Linked DNA regions of Homo sapiens: regions 2 and 3 are each linked to region 1. Evidence: fine-mapped expression QTL. A gene starts in region 1. Each other region holds a variant in brackets. All regions are shown on one strand. Distances are from middle to middle.

The links. PIP is the estimated chance that this variant, and not a neighbour inherited with it, causes the effect.
Region 2: its variant is fine-mapped to the expression of SLC28A3 in monocytes (Quach 2016, PIP 0.95).
Region 3: its variant is fine-mapped to the expression of SLC28A3 in whole blood (TOPMed, PIP above 0.99). The same link has a PIP of 0.9 or more in monocytes and monocytes after LPS.

The regions. Positions count from the first base shown.
Region 1 is chr9:84,336,769-84,345,059 of GRCh38, forward strand. SLC28A3 (solute carrier family 28 member 3) reads right to left here and starts at 3,990. Exons shown (of 18, transcript NM_001199633.2): 1 at 3,806-3,990. The coding sequence starts at 3,865.
Region 2 is chr9:84,400,661-84,408,951 of GRCh38, forward strand. No RefSeq gene overlaps it. Among named protein-coding and RNA genes, the nearest start is that of SLC28A3, 64 kb to the left of the region's middle. The variant A/G (reference allele first, on the strand shown) is at 4,026.
Region 3 is chr9:84,364,115-84,372,405 of GRCh38, forward strand. It overlaps a transcript of SLC28A3 not described here. Among named protein-coding and RNA genes, the nearest start is that of SLC28A3, 28 kb to the left of the region's middle. The variant T/G (reference allele first, on the strand shown) is at 4,339.

The sequences.
Region 1 (8,291 bases):
TGCCCCCTTTCCCTATACCGTGTTCCCTTCCTCCATCCCAGGCTCATGTGCTCTTCTCCTTTAGGGTTCTGAGTCTGTACAGATAGTTCTCTCTGCTTGCAGTGCTCTGCCCACCCCACCTCCTACTGTGACCTGACCATCCTTAAAGCCCTAATCAAATTCTCCCTCCTTTGGTGATGCTGTCACAGACTCCTCAGTCAGCTCAGCTCCAGCTATATATTATTTACAATGCACTTGGTGCTGGCTGGGTGTTGTGGCTCATGACTGTAATCCCAGCACTTTGGAAGGCCAAAGCAGGAGGATTGCTTGAGGCCAGGGTTTCAGACCAGCCCTGGTAAGATAGCAAGACAAAATATAAAAAATAATAAATATAAGAATACAATGCACTTGGTGCAAACCTCCGCCATTTTCCTTAACATCAATTATATTGTAATTGCATGCTTATTTCTGCCTGTCCTTCTCCTTGAGGGCAAGAAGAGCATATTATTCTTTCTTGAGTTGGTATCCCTTCTTAGAGGCGGCCATATCTAGGGGGCAGTTGATGATTCTACTGAATAAATAGAAATAACCCAGTCACTGTTTTTAGGTGTGGGTGTTGTTGGTATGATACTCTGCTGGGTTTGAGATGCCCTGCTTAGAACCTTGAGGCCTGGGGATGCTAGCCTGTGTGTGTGCGCGCGCGTGTGTGTATGCGTATGTGGGTGTGAGTGTTTGCACACGTGTGTGTGTGTACTTTGTCCTTTCAGGCAGTTATTTTTCCTGAACTGATGGGAACATCTTGCACAAAATCAAGAGCCAGTTTGCTGACTGTTTTAAGGTTTAAAAAATATTTTAAAATAAAATAAGAAATCCTTAGATATTCCACATACACGCAATACTTTAAATGCCAATCCGAACTTCCTTCATAAATAGCAAACGTCTTATTTGCAACTACTGTTGAATGAAGTCATTTCCATCCTCAGCCATATGAGAAATAAGTTCCTTATTCATAGAAAACGTTTAGAGGTACAATAAAATGAGATTAGAAAAAAAAAACCCTAACATTCATTTCTATCGTTGGTTACAAAATCCACTCTCATGTATGAAGTGTGCTCTAGCTGTGAAATCCTTTCTTGGAGGTGAGATCATTTCTCTCTTATAACCCATATCACTGACTTTGTGCTCCTGTTTAACCTTTCCCACTGGAGTACTAGCTCCATGAAAACAGCAATTGGTGCTCCCTTCTTTGAGGAACAGTCCAGATGAGAGCCTGTCCAGGTAATCCATAGATATGCATAACCATTGCACCTGCACCAGGTCTTACAGGCACAGGCCTTTTGGGAACCCATATCAGCATTTCAAGCTGTGAAAGTAGTTCTACTTAGTAAAATTAGAACTTTGGTCTACCAAGGGCACTCTTAATATTTGAAGAAGAAAAATGAATTTCTAGCACAATTCACAGACTAGGACAAGGTGAATAAGTAAGCATCCTAACTTATTTGGAAGTCCTGGTGGCATGTTAATGCATATTTAATAATGCGAGTGAAGTAGCACATATTTTACAATCAATTAATTTTCCTTAAAGAAGATAATGTAGCAGGAGAGCTGAATGTCAAACAAGGTAAGACTCATACTTATTAACTTGGCAGGAGTTATGAGGCCTCTGATTCTCTTGAAAGACAAATTGTCTTCACTATTTTGATTTTGAAATGTAGAAATTCAAATTTCAATCAATCCAATGAGTAAGGATGACAGGAAATTTTACAGAACTAGGAGGAAGCTTCCTTTCATTTTTCCTTCTTTTTATTGGGGCAGGTGTAGGGGGATGTTTCCCCCACAAAACAGCAGTTTTGCTAGAAGACAGTGAGGGATCACCACCGTTGTGTGCCCTCCTCCCTGGGAGCAGCCAGTTGCTGTGACATGGACCTTCTCTATTGCAGATATATTTTCTTGCTGCCATACTTCCTCTGACTCTATCCAATTCCATCCTTTCCATTCTCTGGAATCAGAATGGGCCCATGCTTTATGCTTTTCCCCCTCACTTAGCCCTTAGAGAAGAGATCAGGATGTGCCACCCTCCAAATGCCCACATTTTGGCACAAGAATATTTTGAACTGAAGGCTATGAAAAAGAAAGCAGACACAGAAAGAGCTCTCTGCCCTCCCCCATCCCCCATCTTCCTAAAAGCAGCACATTTATTGATATTTCCCTTGCACAGGTGTCCCGCTTGCTCATACAAGGAAGAGAGCAACCCTTATCACCAAAGACAGAGATGCCGCTGAGATAAATCTGCATGAACAAACCTCGATAAATTAACCCTTATCTTCCATTATTTCCACCTCCCACCCCCACTTTATTGTCCCTAAAAGCATAACCCTCTTTTCCTTTGTCTAGTCATTTCACTATTTGCCGTGCTTTGTTTTAATGGTATATAAGCTCCTGAGTCTATTAGGTTTTTCCGTTTCTTTTATGTGAGGCTCTCATACATGTGAGATTTTATTTTATTATTATTATTTTTTTGAGACTGAGTCTCCCTCTGTCAACCAGGCTGGAGTACAGAGGCACGATCTTGGCTCACTGCAGCCTCTGCCTCCCAGATTCAAGTGATTCTCCTGCCTCGGCCTCCCGAGTAGCTGGGACTACAGGCATGTACCACCATGCCCGGCTGATTTTTGTATTTTTAGTAGAGATGGGGTTTCACTATGTTGGCCAGGCTGGTCTCAAATTCCTGACCTCAAATGATCAGCCCGCCTCAGCCTCCCAAAGTGCTAGGATTACAGGCATGAGGCACCACTGCCAGCCACATGTGAGATTTTAAATATGAATAAAATTTGCGTGCCTTTTCTCCTGCTAATCTGTTTTATGTTGGTTTAATTTGCAGGCCTCAGGCACTCAACCTAAGAGGGTAGATGAAGTTGTTTCCTCTCCTACACTTGTGACCTATAAGTGGTAACCCGATGCCTACTCATGGAGATGGGCATCACTGTGACCATGGGACAGATGATCAAACTTGGGCTCTGGGAAGTTACAGGAATTTGTGGGTGCTGGAGTCTGAACTCCTGTCAAAGCCCTTTTACCTCCCTCTTTCCTTTCTTGGCTAGCACCTCAAAGTTTTGTTTTGCCCATCTAGCAGACCGTAAAGTCCAAGGGATTGTTGACACTTGCCGGTGCAGGCTTCCCATCTTCTCCAGAGCGCCCATGCTGAGTGTCAGCTAAGGAAAGGAAGCACACCTAAAAACAGCCCTGGAAATCCCCATCCCAGACCCAGTCAAAATAGCCTGGTGTTTCTGACAGGTCTCCTTCTATGTCTCTGCGGGCACCCAGCCTCGGGCTGAGCAGCATTAATCACTCAGTGAGTTTTGGTTGATGAAGTGAGACTGATTTGCGTAATCCAGCTGCTCTGGGGCAGGTACCGGGGCCATCTGACAGGGGCTCCAGGACTTGGCTTGAGTAAAAGGAACCCTGAGACACTACCCCAGCCAGGATCTAAATTCCCCCATTTTTCCCTTCTCACCAGTTCTTTGGAAAAGTGCCTGAAGATAAATAATGGACCCCTGCTGTGAGCCAGAAGGGAAAAAAGGCAAGAGAAGAAGGCTGTCTTGTTTCTAAGTGACCATAGGGATCACAACACATCGATTAAAAGAGACTTTTCAGGTTTGTCAACCCAGAAGAGCCCAAGAAGAAAAAATAATGGGCTTAAAGTGTGCCGTTAAAAATCGTATTGTCCTGATAATCTCCCTGCTTAGGTAAGAAACTTGCCAAGGGGCTAAGGAAAGGGCAGCTTTTCCACTGAAGGCCTTTAACATAAGAGGAAAGCTCTGCTCACCTGGAAGCCCACGTTGCTGTAGCCCTCAGCTCTGGGGGCTGCTGTACTCCTCAGCTCCATGCTCTTTTTGCTGCTGGCTGGCTCTGGTCTGGAGGTCCTTTGTACCTGGGAAAAAGCACCAGTCTCTGCTGATGTCAGAAAGCCACCTGCTGTTACAGGGACCTGGGCACAGCTTGCTTCAGTTTGGAAACTTCTGCAATAATCTCCTGAATGACTAGGGCTGACACCTGGTTGGGGTGGGGCAGAGAGGCGGGCGGGTTGGCGGGGTGGAGGCATCTAGTGCTGGCCCGCCCACCTTATTAATCTTTTCCTTTATCCCCATTTTTGGCATCCTATTTGCACTCCTGGGGAGAAAACTCTTGTGGTGCACAAAACAGAAAAGGACACTTTCTTTTTCTTTCTTTCTTTCTTTTTTTTTTTGAGATGGAGTCTCAAAAAAAAAAAGGCTGGAGTGCAGTGACGCAATCTCGGTTCACTGCAACCTCTGCCTCCCAGGTTCAAGCAATTCTCCTGCCTCAGCCTCTCAAGTAGCTGGGATTACAGGTGCATGCCACCACACCTGGCTGACTTTATTTTTAGTAGAGACGGGGTTTCACCATGTTGGCCAGGCTGTTCTTGAACTCCTGACCTCAAGTGATCCACCTGCCTTGGCCTCCTAAATTGCTGGGATTACAGGCATGAGCCACCGTGCCCAGCCAGAAAAGGACACGTTCTCTATAGTGCTTAGTGAAATCCTCTGTTTTCCTGTGGGTGGTGTTAAAGACTAGGAGTGGTGGTGGGGTGGAGGGTGAGTGAACACAGGATATAAGGTCATGCCGCCCTCAGTGATCACCTACTGTATACCAGGGATGGATAGATGGATAGATACATAGACAGATAGGTAGGTAGGTAAGGGTCTTGGCTCTTCTTCCGAACAACTCAAAATTCTATACTGAAGTACAGAAAAGTTAACAATTTGTTTAGTGTCATTTAGCTAATAAAGGGATAATGAGAATTCAAATTCAAGTTTGGTTAATTCCAAAACCTTTTATTACATCCCTGCTTCAGACTGGGCTGCTTTCAAAAATCCAGCTTACAGAAATGCCGATATGTGACAAGTAAATGAAAGGTGACCAGCTATTCAATTATCAAAAGTGAATAGAAGTGCTTTGTTTTCATAAAGCAATTCACTTTGCTTTATGAAAATATTAGCTGTAGAATTCTTTTAAAATAGGGATTTTCCCCCCTAGTACAATTTAAAATACTGCAAAACTGTGGACAAAAGAATGGAAAAGGCCTGGTGCGGTGGCTCACGCCTGTAATCCCAGCACTTTGGGAGCCCAAGGCGGGTGGATCACTTTAGGCCAGGAGTTCAAGACCAGCCTGGCCAACATGGCGAAACTCCATCTCTACTAAAAATACAAAAATTAGCCAGGAGTGATAACGTGCGCCTGTAGTCCCAGCTACTCGGGAGGCTGAGGCGGGAGAATCGCTTGAACCCAGGAGACACAGATTGCAGTGAGCCGAAAACGCACCGCTGCCTCCCATCTGGATGACAGAGTGAGACCCTGTCTCAAAAAAAAAAAAAAAAAGAAAAGAAAAAGAAAAAGAAAAAGTAAGAAAATACCAAGTATTATGAGTGGTTATTTCTCGGTTTTTAATTTTATGGGCAGTTGGTGTTTTTTTTTTCTCCTTCAAATGCTGCTGAGTTTTCTATAAAGAGAATGATTTACTTTTATTATTGTTAACCTAAAGGAAAAAACGGAGACAAACTTAATGTAAGTATAGAGTTTATTTGGTCTAAGTTTGAGATTGCAACTTGGGAGCACATATTCAAGTTGCTCTGAATATACACTTAGTAGCAGTTACAAGTAGATTCTTGTGTGTGTGTGTGTGTGTTCTGTTGCCCAGGCTGGAGTGCATGATCATGGCTTGCTGCAACCTTGACCTCCTGGGCTGAAGCTATCCTCCTGTCTCAGCCTCCCGAGTAGCTGGGACTACAGACAGGTGCCATCACCCATGGCTAAATTTTTTTTTTTTTTTTGGTAGAACTGGGGGCCTCACTATGTTGCCCAGACTTGTCTTGAACTCCTGGGCTCAAGCAATCTTCCCACCTGCCTTGGTTTCCAAAAGTGCTGGGATTACAGGCACTGTGCCTGGCCACAAGTGAATTTTAAAGGAAAAGAAGGAGTTTCTGAGTTGTTTACCAATTATTTACATTAAAATAACATAAGCTATTGATTGGCTATACATTGCTATTTGTATCACACATTCTAGGAACAGAAAGGCAGCCAGTCAGGAACAAAATTCCTTTAAAACAATTGCCCCTGGCCAGGCACAGTGGCTCCCGCCTATAATCCCAGCACTTTGGGAGGCCGAGGCAGATGGATCATGAAGTCAGGAATTCGAGACCAGCCTGGCCAACATGGTGAAACCCTGTCTCTTCTAAATACTACAAAAATTAGCCAGGCATGGTGGCACATGCCTGTAGTCCCAGCTACTTGGGAGGCTGTGGCAGGAGAATTGCTTGAACCCAGGAGGTGGAGGTTGTGGTGAGTCGAGTGGAGGTTGTGGTGAGTCGAGATCACGCCACCGCACTCCAGACTGGGTGACAGAGCAAGACTCCATCTCAAAAAAAAAACAAAAGACAAAAAACAAAAGCAAAAAAAAATTGCCCCCGGGCACAGGGTTGAGTGGTGACTGAAGTCCAACCCTCCGTTTCTCTGGGCCTGATAGATTTTGCATTGCTCACATAGCTGGGACTGTGTGAGTTATTTTTGTTTTCTCTTTATCAGTGACTGAGGCCCAGTCTCTCTGGGCCTGATAGATTTTGCATATCTCACATAGCTCAGACTGTGGGAGTTATTTTTCTTTTCTTGTTATCATGATACAGACTGTACAGTGTATACATAATGATTAAAGGCTTGCAGGAACCTGTGGTCTGGGTTCAAATCCTGGACTCTACCTCATAACTACAGCCAACCACAGCTTGAGGGTCACACCTAACCTTCTGCTGCTTTTATATGGCCCAAGAGCTAAGAATGGGTTTTAGATTTTTAAATGGTTGAAAAAAATTAAAAGGAAGAATATTTCCTGACACATTAAAGTTATATGAAATTCAAACTTCAGTGTCTATAAATAAAGTTTTGTAAAAACAGAAACATGGCCATTGATTTATGTATTGTCTAAGGCTGCTATCATCCCATAAGGACAGAATTGAGTAGCTGTGACAAATACCACACGGCTCAAAGACAAAATATCCACTACCTGGCTGATGCCTATAATCCCAACACTTTGGGAAGCCAAGATGGGAGAATCGCTTGAGCCCAGAAGTTTGAGATCAGTCTGGGCAATGTAGGAAGACCCCGTCTCTACAAAAAATACAACAATTAGCCAGGTGTGGTGGTACGTGCCTGTAGTCCCAGCTACTTGGGAGGCTGAGGTGGGAAGACTTACTGGCCATGGGAATTTGGGCAAGTAGCTGAGTTCTCTGTATCTCAGATTCTTCCTTCATAAAACGGAGATAACAGTACCTGAGGACTAAGCTCTGATTTTTTTTTTATCTTGCCCAAATTATGATCTAAGGGGTCTGGGGAGTCATGCCCTACAAATCATAAATTCTCATCATATGGGTTTTTTTTTTTTTTTTTTTGGTCAGACAGAGTCTTGCTCTGTTGCCCAGGCTGGAGTGCAGTGGCAGATCTCAGCTTACTGCAACCTCCGACTTCCGGGTTCAAGTGATTCTCCTGCCTCAGTCTCCCGAGTAGCTGAGACTACAGGCGTGTGCCACCATGCCTGGCTAATTTTTACATTTTTAGTAGAAACAGAATTTCACCATGTTGGCCAGGCTGGTCTTGAACTCCTGATCTCAAGTGATCCACCTGCCTTGCCCTCCCAAAGTGCTGGGATTACAGGTGTGAGCCACCGCACCCGGCCCAGATGGGTTTTATTTAACCCTATATATCATGACTTACTTTCAAACCTGACTCGCATAACATTATGAGACAAGGAAGAAAATAAAAATATTTTACCCCAAAACATGTTTCTTTGACATATTTTGAAAAGGAAACATTGTCATCCTTTGTCTCTAAGGGCAGCCACTATAAAACTTCAGAAGAACTTTGGTTTCCACAATCTTTATCTTAGCCTGAATATTCCCTTTCTATGAATCCCAGGTCTTGAGACAAACTCAACCAATTGTCAACCAGAAAATGTTTAAATTCCCCTATAGCCTGGAAGCCCAACCCCCTCCTCCCCTTGCTTTGAGTTGTCCTGCCTTTCTGGACCAAACCAATGTATTTCTTAAATGTATTTGATTGATGTCCCATGCCTTTTTAAAATGTATAAAACCAAGCTGTGCCCTGACCACCTTGGGCAAATGTTCTTAGGGCCTCCCAAGGGTTGTGTCATGGGCCATGATCACTCATATTTGGCTCAGAATAAATGTCTTCAAATATTTAACAGAGTTCAACTCTTTTCATCGACATACCCATTTAGAAACAGTGCT
Region 2 (8,291 bases), 64 kb after region 1:
AGGCACTGTGGGAACTACACACGGGCTTGTCCAGCAGCTGAGAGGGAGCCAAGCCACAGTCATGTTCTCTCCCAGGCCTGCCCAGGCCAGCTCTACCAAATAACAGAATCATATAATTTAATCAAACATTATGTAAATTGAGGAAATATGAATGCCATAAGAATGGAGTTGTCTCTACTTTCTCTGAAATGGTTAAATGCAATGTAAAGGCTTGAAGTTTGTGAGCTGATAAGAAACTGTCTTTTAAATTAAGAGATGATTGTAGAGGCCTGCGAAAAACAATAAAAGCCAGGTAAAAGTCTCCTCTCAGATTGCTGCATAACAGAGTTTAAGTTCTTGCTCCACTTTAAAGAAATGGAAATAGCTGGGTGTGGCGGCTCATGCCTGTAATCCCAGCACTTTGGGAGGCCACAATGGGTGGATCACCTGAGGTCAGGCGCTCAAGACCAGCCTGGCCAACATGAGGAAACCCTGTCTCTGCTAAAAATACAAAAATTAGCTAGGTATGATAACTCTCACCTGTAGTCCTAGCTACTCAGAAGGTTGAGGCACGAGAATCGCTTGAACCCAGGAGGCAGAGGTTGCAGTGAGCTGAGATCCTGCCACACTGCACTCCAGCCTGGGGACAGAGTGAGAATCTGTCTCAAAAACAAACAAACAAACAAACAAAAAACAAAAAAACAAAACAAACAAAAAAATGGAAACTGGAAATCATGGTTGGAGTTTATGAAAGGAGACCATGCAGACTCCAATTAGTAGGTCAATTCTCAAAGACAGGACTTGGTTCTATGTCAAAGTTGAAAAAAACGCATTCTGGCGGGTTAAGTTAAATATTTAAGGTATGTATGTATAATCTTTTATGATTCCTTGCCTTAACTTTTTTTTCTAATTAACCACCCATCTATGGATATGGATACAGATAGTTTTGGATGTAAGAATTCTGTATTAATAATACGTGCAGGAAGAAAGAAGAAAGGAGATATGCATTTTCTGGTCTGGCACTGTATACAGCAGGCACTTAATAAATAGAAATTCTCATTCTCCTCTCTTTTTTTTTTTTGAAAGAGAAGGAACCATAACTTTCTAACACAGCTAATACTATTTCTGAACAGTTCTAGGTAACTGGAAAGTTCTGTTTTTTTTTTTTTTTTTTTTTTTTTTTGAGACGGAGTCTCACTTTGTCTCCCAGGCTGGAGTGTAGTGGTGCAATCTTGGCTCACTGCAACCTCCACCTCCCAGGTTCAAGTAATTCTCCTGCCTCAGCCTCCTAAGTAGCTGGGATTATAGGCATGCGCCACCACTCCTGGCTAATTTTTGTATTTTTAGTAGAGACAGGATTTGGCCATGTTGGCCAGGCTGGTCTCCAACTCCTGACCTCAAGTGATCTGCCTGCCTCAGCCTCCCAAAGTGCTGGGATTACAGGTGTAAGCCACCACACCCGGCCTGGAAAGCTCTTTTAAAGCTTCCTCATAATTTCCGTATAGTACAGTCCTAGACTTGTATTTTGGGTGTGCCCAGAACCAAGGGCAGTTACATACACACCACACACACACACACACACACACACACACACACACACACACATTTTTTTTGAGACAGGGTCTTCTCACTCTGTTGCCCAGACTGGAGTGCAGTGGCACAAATGCAGCTCACTGCAGCCTTGACCTTTGAGACTCAAGTGATCTTCTTGCCTCAGCCTCCCTAGTAGCTGGGACTACAGGCAAGTGCTACCATGCTGGGCTAATTATTTTATTTTTAGGAGAGATGGGGTCTCACTATGTTTCCCAGGCTGGTGTCAAACTCTGGGGCTCAAGTGATCCTCTCACCTTGGCCTCCCAAAGTGCTGGAATTATCGTTGTAAGCCATCGTGCCCAGCCCTATACATAGCTGAAGACAACATTAAGTCATGTCCCTCCATTAATCTCTTCTCCACAGCAATTTTTAGTGTCCCTCCCTTCATTTCTGGGCCCGAGCCCTGTGACACCCCAGATGAATGTGACATTCTACAGGCAGCACTGGAGAGCTGTCCTGCCACTTTGTCCCTATTCTGGACACCCTCTTCCAATGAAGGTATCTGCCACCGTGTAAGGATTTTTCACAGCTGTGTCAAGTGTTGTTAATACAGGCCTGGCTGCCGGCCTTCCAGGCCTTTCATCAGGGACTGCTACAAAGCAGGCCTTCTCCATCCTGAAATTGCACATTTGATATTCTTTCATTGTGTATGTGGGAATTTGTATGAATTACATTTTATCTTGTTGGTTTCAGCCCAGTTTTCTAGTTTGAGTTCTTTTTGTTTGGATCTTGATAGAAGTTGTATTAGTCCATTCTCATACTACTGTGAAGAAATACCCAAGACTGGGTAATTTACAAAGGAAAGAGGTTTAATTGACTCACAGTTCGGCATGGCTGGGAGGCCTCAGGAAACTTACAATCATGACAGAAGGGGAAGCAAACACATCTTCTCATTGTGGCAGGAGAGAGAGAAGTGCTGGGCAAAGGGCCCCTTATAAAACCATCAGATCTCATGAGAACACACTGACTATGAGAAAAACAGTGTGGGGGTAACCATGCTATTACCTCCCACTGGGTCCCTCCCATGACAGGTGGGGATTATGGGAACTACAATTCAAGATGAGATTTGGGTGGGGACACAGCCAAACCATATTACAAGTCATCCAGCATAGTGACTATTTCTCCCTGCTTGGTGTTTTGGCCGGTTTGGCAAACAAGCCTTCCCAGTCTTTCTTCATGCTGGTGGTAAATACATTGGACAGTAAAGGGCCTGAGACACAGCTGTGTGGCATGGTACAAGAGGCCTGGACTTTGTCCTCCACCCAGTTCATTTAACATTCAATTAAACAAATATTCATCAAGTTGAGCATGCCAGGCACCGTTCTAAATGCTGGCAGTATAGCAGTGGACAAAACAAACAAAAATTCTACCTTTTATTTATTTATTTTTTTGAGACTGAGTCTCACTCTGTAGCCCAGGCTGGAGTACAGTGATACGATCTTGGCTCACTGCAACCTCTGCCTCCTGGGATCAAGTGATTCTCCTGCCTCAGCCTCCTGAGTAGCTGGGATTACAGGCACCCACCACCACACCCGGCTAATTTTTGTATTTTTAGTAGAGACGGGGTTTCACCATGTGGCTGGTTTTGAACTCCTGACCTCAAGTGATCCATTGGCCTTGGCCTCCCAAAGTGCTGGGATTACAGGCATGAGTCACTGCGCCTGGCCCAATTCTACCCTTTTGGAGCTTGCATTTTAGTCGACAGCATTTTAACTAAGAAGTCATGTCCCCATCATATATACCTTAATCTTTATTTGATTAAGCTCTCATTTATTCATAATGATGGTTAATTAAGTATTTACCATGTGTTGAGCCCTGGTCTTCATGCATGTAGTAAGTATGAACTTATCTACAACACACCATCCACTAGATTGGCAAAAAGCTCATTATCACACTTTTGGGGTCGGTCCTCTCTCCTTTAAGGATCATCTGTGAACCTTTTGAATCTTTTGCAGTCTAAAAGGAAATTTCTCCAAAGTTCAATTTTCAAGTAGGGAAAAAAAAACTAAGTGTTGGTCCGCAGCTCTGCAGCTGCTCATCACCGCCACTTGAGGGCGCTGATGAACACAAATTGTCCTCCATCCATCCATTGGACCCCGTGGTCTTTGCCCTATGACCCAGTCCAGAAAGTTGGGGCCTTCAAAGAAAGGCAATTCTCCACACACTCACTCAGTCCAGGGTAACACGCTCCTCAGTGCGTTTTCTGGAGTTCTCAGTCATTCTCCTCTGGAGCCAGTCCTCATAAGTGGCTCAGGGGACCTCCTCCTGGGATCCAAAGCCCTGGATCTCTTTAGTTCTGAGAATACACTGGGTGGGTAGGCAGACAGATTGAAGAGACCAGGATTGAGATGTTTTCTTTTGCATTCCTCAATATCTTTATTTTATTTTATTTTATTCCTTTTTAAAGAGGCTCACTATGATGTCCAGGTTGGTGTCGAACTCCTGGGCTCAAG[A/G]GATCCTCCTGCCCCAACCTCCTGAGTAGCTGAGACTATAGGTGCATGCCCCTGACCCCAGCTGTGTTCCTCAAAATCCAATAGACTTATTCCGCTTCCTTCTTGACATAGTGTTAATTGATCCAACTCTTCTCTTCTTTTTGGTCTCACATGACAATCTGGTTACTTCTTAAGGAAGGGGATAGGTGACAAGGTGCCACCTTGGGGGTTTCTGCTGAACACCGACTGCTCCCCATCCCTGTAGCAGAGATGGTGGAGATTAGGTGGTGAGGAAGACTTTTGAAACCTTAATGTATGAGTCGCCATGTCTCAGAGGCCACTAAGGGACTTCCTATGCATCTTTAAATATCAGTGAAAAAAAGCCTTTCAGGTTTACCCCAAACTCATGCATTATCTTATTTGACCCCCAGAATACCCCTGCAAGGCAGGATCATTTTAGCCATTTCACAGATGAGGCAACAGATTCAGAAGTGATAGGAACTCATTGTGAGTTTGGAAGCTGGGTTACTTGGGCTTTGAAGTCTTACTTAGTCCACCACCCATGCTCCTCTATCTTGCTCACAGGCTCTCACCCTCTGTACCAACCTGTACCTCCATGCACCATTGTTCAAGCATCAGAGAGGACTTCCAGAGAGCTTGGAGGCTCAACAGTTTCTCAATAGGCTGTTGGAACTGAGAACTTTAGAAACGACTTGCCTGGCCAGGCATGATGGCTCAGGCTTTGAATCCCAGCACTTTGGGAGGCTGAGGCGGTTGGGTCACTTGAGGCCAGAGTTTGAGAGTTCGAGAGTTCTCAAGAGTTCGAGACCAGCCTGGATAACTTGGTGAAACCCCATCTCTACTAAAAATACAAAAATTACCTGGGTGTGGCAGTGCACACCTGTAGTCCCATCTACTTGGGAGAAGCATAGAATTGCTTGAGCCTGGGAGGTGGAGGTTGCATTGAGTTGAGATCATGCCACTGCACACCAGCCTGGGTGACAGAGTGAGACTGTCTCTAAAAAACAAAACAAAACAAAACAAAACAAAAAACAAAAAAAACATTTGCCTTAATGAGGAACCGCTGATTTGATTCCTGAAGTAGTACAACCCATTAATCTAATGTACGTAATGGGAATAGAAGAATTGTATTACACTAGAGCTAAAAGAGACATCAGTGATCGTGTAGCTCAGCTTGTTGTTTTTACAGAGTTGAATACTGAGGATCAGGGAGCTTAAATGACAACTAGGCAGTAAAAGAACTCATGGAGTAACCTGGTCTTCTCATTCCCAATTTAGAACTTATTTTAAACTGGTGTTTGATGACTTTTGCGTTAGAGGTCTTTGTTATTCTAGAAAAGTGAAAATTACTGAAGTGTTAAAATACAAAGCTCTTTCTTTTCTTTCTTTGTTTCTTTCTTTTTTTTTTTTTTTTTTTTTTGGCAGAGTTTCACTCTGTTGCCCAGGCTGGAGTGCAATGGTGCGATCTTGGCTCACCGCAACCTCTGCCTCCTGGGTTCAAGCGATTCTCCTGCCTCAGCCTCCTGAGTAGCTGGGATTACAGGTGTGTGCCACCATGCCTGGCTAATTTTGTATTTTTAGTAGAGATGGGGTTTCTCCATGTTGGTCAGGATGGTCTCGAACTTCCAATCTCAGGCGATCCGCCCTCCTCGTCCTCCCAAAGTGCTGGGATTACAGGCGTGAGCCAATGGGCCTGGCCCTATAAAGTACTTTCAATCTTTGTCAAGACAGAGCAACAGGTTTATTTTTATGCTATTAGCATTATAAAGCTGGGCAAAATATATGAACATGTATTGTTAGGCATTGGACAGTAGACATCACAGGACTGCAATTCTTGAAAGACAGCACACAAAGTGAGGTCCATTTTCATGCTGCCTTTTTTTTTTTTTTTTTTTTTTGAGATGGAGTCTCCTTCTGTTCCCAGGCTGGAGTGCAATGGTGTGATCTCAGCTCACTGCAACCTTTGCTTCCCAGTTTCAAGCGATTCTCCTGCCTCAGCCTCCCGAGTAGCTGGGATTACAGGTGCACATCACCACGCCCAGCTAATTTTTAGTAGAGATGAGACTTCACCATGTTGACCATGGTTGGTCAGGGTGGTCTTGAAGTCTTGACCTCGGGTGATCCAACCACCTTCGCCTCCCAAAGTGCTGGGATTACAGACATGAGCCGCCATGCCCAGCCTGTATTTTGTTTTTTTGAGACAGGGTCTTGCTCTGTCACCCAGTCTGTCTTGCAGTGGTGCGATCATGGCTCACTGAAGCCTCGACTTCCTGGACTTAAGTGATCCTCCTACCTCAGCCTCCTGAGTAGCTGAGACTGCAGACATGAGCCACCATGCCCCACTAATTTTTCTTTTTTGTAGCGATGGGATCTCACCATGTTGCCTCAGCCTCTCAAAGTGCTGGGATTACAGGCATGAGCCACCATGCCTAACCAATACTGACTTTTTGCTTGAGACATTTTCCAAACTGTAGGGAAATGGAGCCCAACCAGATAGTTGAAGTCTTGCCTGGTGGAGAAAATGAAGACAGAAAGTGAGGGTAGCTAAGACTGCTTGAACTTGCAGGTCTGATACCAGAGAGAAGGCAATTGAAGAGAAACAATCAGAAATCTGTATAGGAGCTTCCTTCAGGTCCTTGGCAAGATCTTTAGTTGCATATTTATTGACTCAGACTCTGCAAAGTCTAGCTGAGAACAGCTTCTAGGGGACTGAGAGGTAAACAGTGATTTTAGAAGTTTGATCTGTTAGGGAGATGTTGGAGTTCTGATTCAACTAAAGTAGAGCGGAACATTTGAGACCCAAAACAACACTCACCTTAGGGGAAATCACTATGTCCTAGGAATAAGGGACATGCTGTAGGGCTGAGAGCAAAGATGAAATAGACCTGCCTTAAGAAAGCCAAATCCCAAGGCTTGACAGGATCAATATGACATGTTAGTAATTTAACTGCTTATCAGAAAAAAATCACAGTTTTTAGAGAAAAACAAAATCAAGAGTCTCTACAACATATCATTCAAAATGTTCAGTGTATGTCTTTGTTCATTTGTTCTGCTATAACAAAATACCCAAGACTGGGTAATTTATAAAAAACAGAAATTTATTTTCTCACAGTTCTATAAGCTGGGAAGGCCAAGATCAAGGCAATGGCAGATTCGGTGTCTGCCGAGATCCCATTCTTCATGCTGTGCCTCCTTGCTATGTCCTCACATAGTACCAGATGGAAGGGCAAAAAAGGAACTGGGGGCCGGGCGTAGTGGCTCATGCTTGTAATCCCATCCCAGCACTTTGGGAAGCTGAGGCAGGCAGATCACCTGAGGTCAGGAGTTCAAGACTAGTCTGGCCAACATGGTGAAACCCTGTCTCTACTAAAAATACAAAAATTAGCTGGGCATGGTGGCGGGCACCTGCAATTCCAGCTACTGGGGAGGCTGAAGAAGGAGAATCCCTTGAACCCGGGGGCGGAGGTTGTAGTGAGCTGAGATTGTACCACTGCACTCCAACCTGGGCAACAGAGACTGTCTCAATTAAAAAAAAGAAAAAGAAATATGTCTAAGAGTTTTCTGTTTTTTCTTTACAAAGATTATTTGCCGGCCAGGTGTGGCGGCTTAAGCCTGTAATCCTGAGAGGTGACAGCCTGCTGGCAGCCCTCGCTCCCTCTCGGCGCCTCCTCTGCCTGGGCGCCCACTCTGGCGGCGCTTGAGGAGCCCTTCAGCCCGCCGCTGCACTGTGGGAGCCCCTTCCTGAGATGGCTGAGGCCGGAGCCGGCTCCCTCAGCTTGCGGGGAGGTGTGGAGGAAGAGGCATGGGCGGGAACCCGGGCTGTGTGCGGCGCTTGCGGGCCAGCTAGAGTTTCAAGTGGGCGTGGGCTTGGCGGGCCCCATACTCAGAGCCGCCGGCCGGCCCGCCGGCTCCGGCAGTGAGGGGCTTAGCACCTGGGCCAGCAGCTGCGGAGGGTGCGCAGGGTCCCCCAGCAGGGCCGTCCCAGCAGCGGTGCTCTCGATTTCTCGCCGGGCCTTAGCTGCCTCCCCGCGGGGCCGGGCTCGGGACCTGCAGCCCGCCATGCCTGAGCCTCCCCCCACCCCCGTCGTGGGCTCCTGTGCCGCCGGAGTCTCCCTGACGAGCGCCACCCCCTGCTCCATGGCGTCCAGTCCCATCTACCGCCCAAGGGCTGAGGAGTGCGGGTGCAAGGCACAGGACTGGCAGGCAGCTCCACCTGCCGCCCCGTGCAGGACCCACTGGGTGAAGCCAGCTGGGCTCCTGAGTCTA
Region 3 (8,291 bases), 27 kb after region 1:
ACACTCTTTTTTTTTTTTTTTTTTTTTTGAGATGGCGTCTTGCTCTGTTACCAAAGCTGGAGTGCAATGGCACGATCTCGGCTCACTTCAACCTCTGCTTGCCAGGTTCAAGCAATTCTCCTGCCTCAGCCTCCCGAGTGGCTTATAGGCATGCACCCTTGATGCCCGGCTAATTTTTGTATTTTTTCAGTAGAGATGGGGTTTCGCCGTGTTGGCAGGTGATCCACTCACCTCAGCCTCCCAAATGCTGGGATTACAGGCATGAGTCACCACGCCTGACCTTTGTTTTGTAAAGACAAGGTCTTGCTATGTTGCCCAGCCTGGTCTTGAACTCTTGGCCTCAAGTGATCCTCCTGCCTTCACCTCCCAAAGTGTTGGGATTACAGGTGTGAGGCACTGTGCCTGGCCAATTACGCTTTTTTAAGTTATTTTGAAAGGTACAGTTAAGTAATTATTAACTATAGTCAATCTGTTGTGTGATCAAATAGTAGGTCTTTTTAATTCTTTTTGTTTTTTTTGTACCCATTAACCATCCCTACCTCCCCTGCAGACCCCCACTACCCTCCCCAGCCTCTGGTCACCATGCTCTACTCTCCATGCCCATGAATTCCATTGTTTCAATTTTTAGATTCCACAAATAAGTGATAACATGCGATGTTTGTCTTTCTGTGCCTAGCTTATTTCACTTAACATAATGATCTCCAGTTTCATCTATGCTGTTGCAAATGACTGAATCTCATTGTTTTTTAAGGCTGAATAGTATTCCATTGTGTATATGAACCACATTTTCTTTATCCATTCATCTGTTGATGGACACTTAGGTTGCTTCCAAATCTTAGCTATTGTGAACAGTGCTGCAACAAACATGTGAGTGCCGGTATCTCTTCAATATACTGACTTCCTTTCTTTTGGGTATATACCCAGCAGTGGGATTGCTGGATCATATAGTTGCTCTATTTTTAGATTTTTGAGGAACCTCCAAACTATTCTCCAGAGTGTCTGTACTAATTTACATTCCTACCAACAGTGTACAAGAGTTCCCTTTTCTCTTCATTCTCACCAGCATTTGTTATTGCCTGTCTTTGGATATATCCCATTATAACTGGGGTGAGATGCTATCTCACTGTAATCTTGGTTTGCATTTCTCTGATGATCAGTGATGTTGAGCACCTTTTCATATGCCTGTTTGCCATTTAAATGTCTTCTTTTGAGAAATGTCTATTCAAATCTTTTTGCCTAGTTTTAAATTGGATTATTAGATTTTTTTTCCTATAGAGTTGTTTGAGCTCCTTATATATGCTGATTATAATCCTTTGTCAAATGAGTAGTTTGCAAAACTTCACTTTGTTGCTATTTTTCCTTTGCTGTGCAGAAGTTTTTTTTAAGTTGATATAACCCCATTTGTTCACTTTTGCTTTGGTTGCCTGTGCTTGTGGGGTATTTCTCAAGAAATTTTCGCCCATAACAATGTCCTGGAGATTTTTCCCAAACTTTTCTTGTAGTAGTTTCATAGATTTAAGTCTAATCCATTTTGATTTATTTTTGTATATGGGGAGAGATAGGGTTCTAGTTTCATTCTTCTGCATATGGATATCCAGTTTTTTATTCTTTTACTGTCTCTGTATATTTTCAGACAAGATTGGGTGTGCTCGAAGACTGGGCGTGGTGGCTTACACCTGTAATCCCAGTACTATGGGAGGCTGAGGTGGGAGGATCACCTGAGGTTGGGAGTTCGAGACCAGCCTGACCAACATGGAGAAACCCTGTCTCTACTAAAAATACAAAATTAGCCAGGCGTGGTGGCACATGCCTGTAATCCCAGCTACTTGGGAGGCTGAGGTGAGAGAATTGCTTGAACCCAGGAGGCAGAGGTTGTGGTGAGCCAAGATCGTGCCATTGCACTCCAGCCTGGGCAACACGAGTGAAACTCCATCTCAAAACAAAAAAACAAAAAAAAGATTGGGTGCATTCGGGGTGGTATGGCTGTAAACTGACTGTATTTTCAAACAGCCTGGCTTCAAGCTCACTAATTCTTTCTTCTGCTTGATCAATTCTGCTATTAAGATTCTGATGCATTCTTCAATATGCCAGTTGCATTTTTCAGCTCCAGAATTTCTGCTTATTTTAAACTATTTCAATCTCTGTGTTAAATTTGTCTGATAGAGTTCTGACCCTTCTGTGTTATCTTGAATCTCTTTTAGTTTCCTCAACACAGCTATTTTGATTTTTCTGTCTGAAAGGCCAAATATCTCTGTTTCTCCAGGATTGGTCCATGTTGGCTTATTTAGTTCATTTGGTGAAGTCTTGTTTTCCTGGATGGTGTTGATGCTAGTAGATGTTCTTTGGTGTCTGGGCATTGAAGAGTTAAGTGTTTATTGTAGTCTTCACTGTCTGGGCTTGTTAGTACCTGTCCTTCTTGGGAAGGGTTTCCAGATATTTGAAAGGTCTAGAGTGTTGTAATCTAAGCTATATCTGCTTTGGGGGACACCCCAAGCTCAGCAACACTGTGGTTCTTGCAGACTTGTAGAGGTACTTCCTTGATGGTCTTGGACAAGATCTAGGAGAATTCTTTGAATTACCAAGCAGAGACTCTTGTTCTCTTCCCTTACTTTCTCCCAAACAAACAGAATCTCTCTCTCTGTTCTGAGCCACCTAAAGCTGGGGGTGGAGCGACACAAGCACCTCTGTGGCCACCACCACTGTGACTGTGCTGGGTCAGCCCTGAAGCCAGCACAGCCCTGAGTCTCACCCAAGACCTTCTGTAACCACTTCCTGGCTACTGCCTATGTTCTGTCAAGGCCCTGGGGCTCTACAGTCAACAGGTGACAAGGCTAGTCAGGCCTGTGTCCTTCCCTTCAGGTCAGCAAGCTCCCCCAGGCCTTTGGTGGGTCCAGAGGTGCTGTCTGGGCCTCAGGGAGTAGAATGAAAACCTTAGAAGTCTACCTGCACTGTGGCTGAGCTGGCACTCAAACCATAAGACACAGTGCTTCCCACTCTTCCCTCCCTTTTCCAAAGGCAGAGGAGCCTCACTTCATAGCCACCACCACCGCAGGCCACGGGGAGTACTCCACAGGAAGTACTGCCATACTACCGCCAATATTCTCTTAAGGCCCAAAGTCTCTTAAGTCAGCTGGTGGTGAATGCTGCCTGGCCTGGGACTCACCCTTCAGGGCAATGGGCTCCCCTCTGGCCCAGGGCAGGTCCAGAGATATCCACAAGCCAGGTCCTGAAATATGTGACCCCAAAAGCCTGCCTGGTGCTTTGCCCATTTGTGGCTGTGCTGGTATCTGAAGCTAGCAAGTTTCAGAGGCTCACCCTAGGCCCTTGATTGAAGGGGTCCTGCCCCTCCACACCTGTGGGTGTTTCTCGTCAGGTGGAGACGAGAGACTGAGAAAAGAAATAAGACACAGAGACAAAGCATAGAGAAAGAACAGTGGGCCCAGGGGACCCGCACACTCAGCATGCGAGGACCTGCACCGGCGCTGGTCTCTGAGTTCCCTCAGTATTTATTGATTTCTATTTTTTACTATCTCGGCAAGGGGAGTGTGGCAGGAGAACAGAGTGATGATGGGGAGAAGGTCAGCAGGAAAACATATGAGCAAGTAATCTGCATCATAAATAAGTTCAAGGGAAGGTACTGTGCCCGGATGTGCACGTAGGCTAGATTTATGTTTCTCTTTACCCAAACATCTCAGTGTAGCAAAGAGTAACAGAGCAGTATCACTGCCAGCATATCTCGCCTCCAGCCATAGGGCGGTTTTCTCCATCTCAGAGTAGAATGAATGGTCGGCTTCACACGGAGACATTCCATTCTCAGGGACATGCGGGAAACAGAGGCCTTCCTCTTATCTCAACCGCAAAGAGGCCTTCCTCTCTTACTAATCCGCCTCAGCACAGACCCTTTATGGGTGTCGGGTTGGGGGATGGTAAGGTCTTTCTCTTCCCATGAGGCCATATCTCAGGCTGTCTCAGTGGGGGGAAACCTTGGACAATACCCAGGCTTTCTTGGGCAGAGGTCCCTGTGGCTTTCCACAGTGCATCGTGTCCCTGGTTAATAAAGGACGGAGAATGGAGATGACTTTTACCAAGCATACTGCCTGCAAACATATTGTTAACAAAGCACATCCTGCACAGCCCTAAATCCCTTAAACCTTGATTCAATACAGCACATGTTTCTATGAGCACAGGGTTGGGGCTAAAGTTACAGGTTAACAGCATCTCAAAGCAGAACAATTTTTCTTAATATGATCAAAATGGAGTTTCTTATGTCTTTCTTTTACTACATAGACACAGTAACAGTCTGATCTCTCTTCTTTTCCCCCACACTGATACAGTACC[T/G]GGGTATCGCTGCTGGTTGTTCAGGTCCCAAGCGCTCTTCATTTAGCAGATGCTGAATGCTGGCCGGACTGGGTCCTTTCCTTCAAGGTGGCAGGTTCACTTCTGACTCAGGGTGTGTCTAGAAATGTCATCTGGGAGCTGGGGCCTGGAATGGGGGCCTCACAACTCTGCCCAGTGCCCTATCCTGCTGTGGCTGAGTTGGCATCCAAGATGCAAGACAAAGTCCTCCCCACTCTTCCTTCTCTCCTCAAGAGGAAGGAAGGAGTGTCTTATGCAGCGGAGGGCTGTGCAGCCTGGAGTTAGAGGAGGGGCACCCCAGCTGGTGTCTCAGTATGTCACATGCCACACCCCTGCCCCCCCACCAAGTCCACTGTCTCTGGGCCCAGTTCAGCCCTAGGACATGAAGTCATGTCAGAAGAACTGCAGGCTGGTCAGGGTGGAGGAACTGGGGAGAGGGGGTAGAAGATGAAGTCATGCCAGGCGTGGTGGCTCACATGTGTTATCCTAGCATTTTGAGAGGCCGAGGCAGGTGGATCACTTGAGGTCAGGAGTTTGAGACCAGCCTGGCCAACATGATGAAACCCTGTCTCTACTAAAAATACAAAAATTAGCCGGGCATGGTGCTGGGCACCTATAATCCCAGCTACTCAAGAGGCTGAGGAAGGAGAATTGCTTGAACCCGGAGCGGGGCGGAGGTTGCAGAGAGCAAAGATCATGCCACTGCACTCCAGCCTGGGCGACAGAGCAAAACTCTGTCTCAAAAAAAAAAAAAAAGAAGATGCAGTCAGATGAAGATGGACTCTGTAGGGCATGGCATGATCACATTTACTTTTTTTTTTTTTTTTTTTTTGCCTAAGATTTGCAGCCCTTACGGCCTAGACTGTCTTTAAGGTTTTTTAGAGTCCCAGAGCACTGTAGCCCTCAGTGGTGAGGTTTGTGGGAACTCAAGTTCAGACAGCTGGAATAGGCGATTCCCCTCTGGCTAGGGCTGGTTTGAATGCTCCCCCAATAGGTGGGTGTTAGCTGAGTTTGGTTTAGTTTTCCTTTCTGCTCTAACAGAACAGCACTGAGTTCAATGCCTTACAACTGCTGTTTACTCCCTCCCTCAGTGCCCAGAGACGCGCTCCGCACCATGCTACTGCTGGGGTCAAGCGTGGAATGGAGGGGTGGGGGTACTTTGAGGGCTCATGTGATTTTTTGGTTCTTTTTTTTTTAACTTTTAAGTTCAGGGGTAATGTGCAGGTTTGTTATATAGGTAAACTTGTGTCACAGCGGTTTGTTGTACAGATTATTTCATCACCCAAGTATTAAACCTATTATCCATTTGTTATTTTTCCTGATCCTCTCCTTCCTCCAGCCCTCCACCCTCCAGTAAGCCCCGGTGTCTGTTGTTCCCCTCTTTATGTCCATATGTTCTCATCATTTAGTCCCCACTTATAAGTGAGAACATGTAGTATTTGGTTTTCTGTTCCTGCATTAGTTTGCTAAGGATAATGGCCTCCAGCTCCATCCATGTTCCTGCAAAGGATATGATGTCATTCTTTTTTATGGATGCATAGTATGCTATGGTGTATAGATATTGTATTTTTTTAATCCAATCTACTATTCATGAGCATTGAGGTTGAGTCCATGTCTTTGCTGTTGTTAACAGTGCTGCAATGAACATATGTGTGCATGTGTCTTTATAATAGAAGGATTATATTTCTTTGGGTATATACCCAGAAATGGGATTGCTGCATCAAATGGTAGTTCTCTTTTTAGATCTTTGAGGAATTGCCACGCTGTTTTCCACAATGGCTGAACTAATTTACACACCCACCAACAGTGTATAAGCATTCCTTTTTCTCTACAACTTCACCAACCCCTGTTACTTTTTGTGTTTTTAATAATAGCCACTCTGACTGGTGTGAGATGGTATCCATCGTGGTTTTGATTTGCATTTCTCTAATGGTCAGTGATGTTGAGCTTTTTTTCACATGCATGTTGGCCACATATATGTTTCTTTTGAAAAGTGTCTGTTCATGTCCTTTGCCCACTGTTTAATGGGGTTGTTTGTCTTCTTGTAAAATTTAAGTGCCTTATAGATGCTGGATAATAGACCTTTGTCAGATGCATAGTTTGCGAAATGTTTCTCCCATTCTGTGGGTTGTCTTTTTACTCTGTTGATGGTTTATTTTGCTGTGGAGAAGCTCTTTAGTTTAATTAGATCTCGTTTGTCAATTTTTGCTTTTGTTGCAATTGCTTTGGGCATTTTCATCATGTAATTTTTGCCTGTTCCTATGTCCATAATGGTATTGTCTAGGTTGTCTTCCAGGGTTTTTATAGTTCTTAGTTTCACATTTAAGCCTTTAATTCATCTTGAGTTAATTTTTGTATGTAGTGTAAGGAAGAGGTCCAGTTTCAATAGTCCGCACATGGCTAGCCAGTTATTCTAGCACCATTTACTGAATAGGGAGTCCTTTCCCCAGTGCTTGTTTTTGTTGACTTTGTCGAAAATTAGATGGTTGTAGATGTGTTGTCTCATTTCTGGGCTCTATATTCTGTTCCATTGGTCTATCTGTCTGTTTTTGTACAAGTACCATGCTATTTGGTTACTGTAGCCCTGATGTATAGTTTGTAGTAGTATAGTTTGAAGTTGGGTAGCGTGATGCCTCCAGCTTTATTCTTTTTGCTTAGAATTGCCTTGGTTATTTGAGGTCTTTTTTTGGTACCCTTTGATTTTTTTTTTTTTTTCCAAAATGGAGTTTTACTCTTGTCACCCAGGCTGGGGCACAACGGCGTGATCTTGGCTCACTGCAACCTCTGCCTCCTGGGTTCAAGCGATTCTCCTGCCTCAGCCTCCCGAGTAGCTGGGATTACAGGAGTGGGCCACCACTCCCAGCTAATTTTTGTATTTTTAGTAGAGACGGGGTTTCACTATGTTGGCCAGGCTGGTCTTGAACTCCTGACCTCAGATTATCACCTGTCTTGGCCTCCGAAAGTGCTGGGATTACAGTTGTGACCCACAGCACCCAGCCCATATGAATTTTAAAATAGTTTTTTCTAGTTCTGTAAAGAATATCACTGGTCGTTTGATAGGAATAGCACTAAATCTATAAATTCAATGAGCAGTATGGCCATTGTAACAATATTGATTCTTCCTATGAATAAGCATGGAATGTTTTCCCATTTAAGGAGTTTTTTTTTTGGGGAGGGGATAATTGGTGGAGCCTTTTATTCTGCCAACTTGCTCTGCTTCCCTCATAGATTTTTTAAAAATTAAAATTTAAAAAAGAAACTAAAAAAATACTTTTAAGAGAGAAAAGAAACAGCAAATATAACAAATGGGTTCACTGTATTATGCTAAAAGTGGTAAGTGCTGTGGAAAAAAAGGAAAAAGTTGGGTAGAGGAAGGGATTTTGAAATGCCAGGGGGCAGGAGGGCTCATATTTCTCAGTATTCATAGGGTGAACTCACTGAGGTTGTGCAAGAAGATATCTGTGGTCAAAGTACTGGCAAGAACTGTTAAAAACGCCCTAACGTGGGAGCATGAAGTTGTGTCAGAAGTACTGCAGCCTGGTCAGGGTGGAGGAGCTGGGGAGAGGGAGTAGAAGATGAAGTCAGATGAAGATGGACTCTGTAGGGCATGGCATGATCAAATTTACTTTTTTTTTTTTGTTTTGAGACAGAGTCCCACTCTGCTGCCGGGACTGGAGTGCAGTGGCTGTGATCTCGGCTCACTGCAACCTCCGCCTCCTGGGTTCAGGAAATTCTCCTGCCTCAGCCTTCCAAGTAGCTGGGATTACAGTCACGCTCTATCACGCCTGGCTAATTTTCGTAGTTTTGGTAGAGACGGAGTTTTGCCATATTGGCCAGGCCGTTCTCAAATCCCTGACCTCAAGTGATCCACCCGCCTTGGCCTCCCAAAGTGCTGGGATTACAGGTATGAGCCACTGCTCCCGGCCTCCAAATTT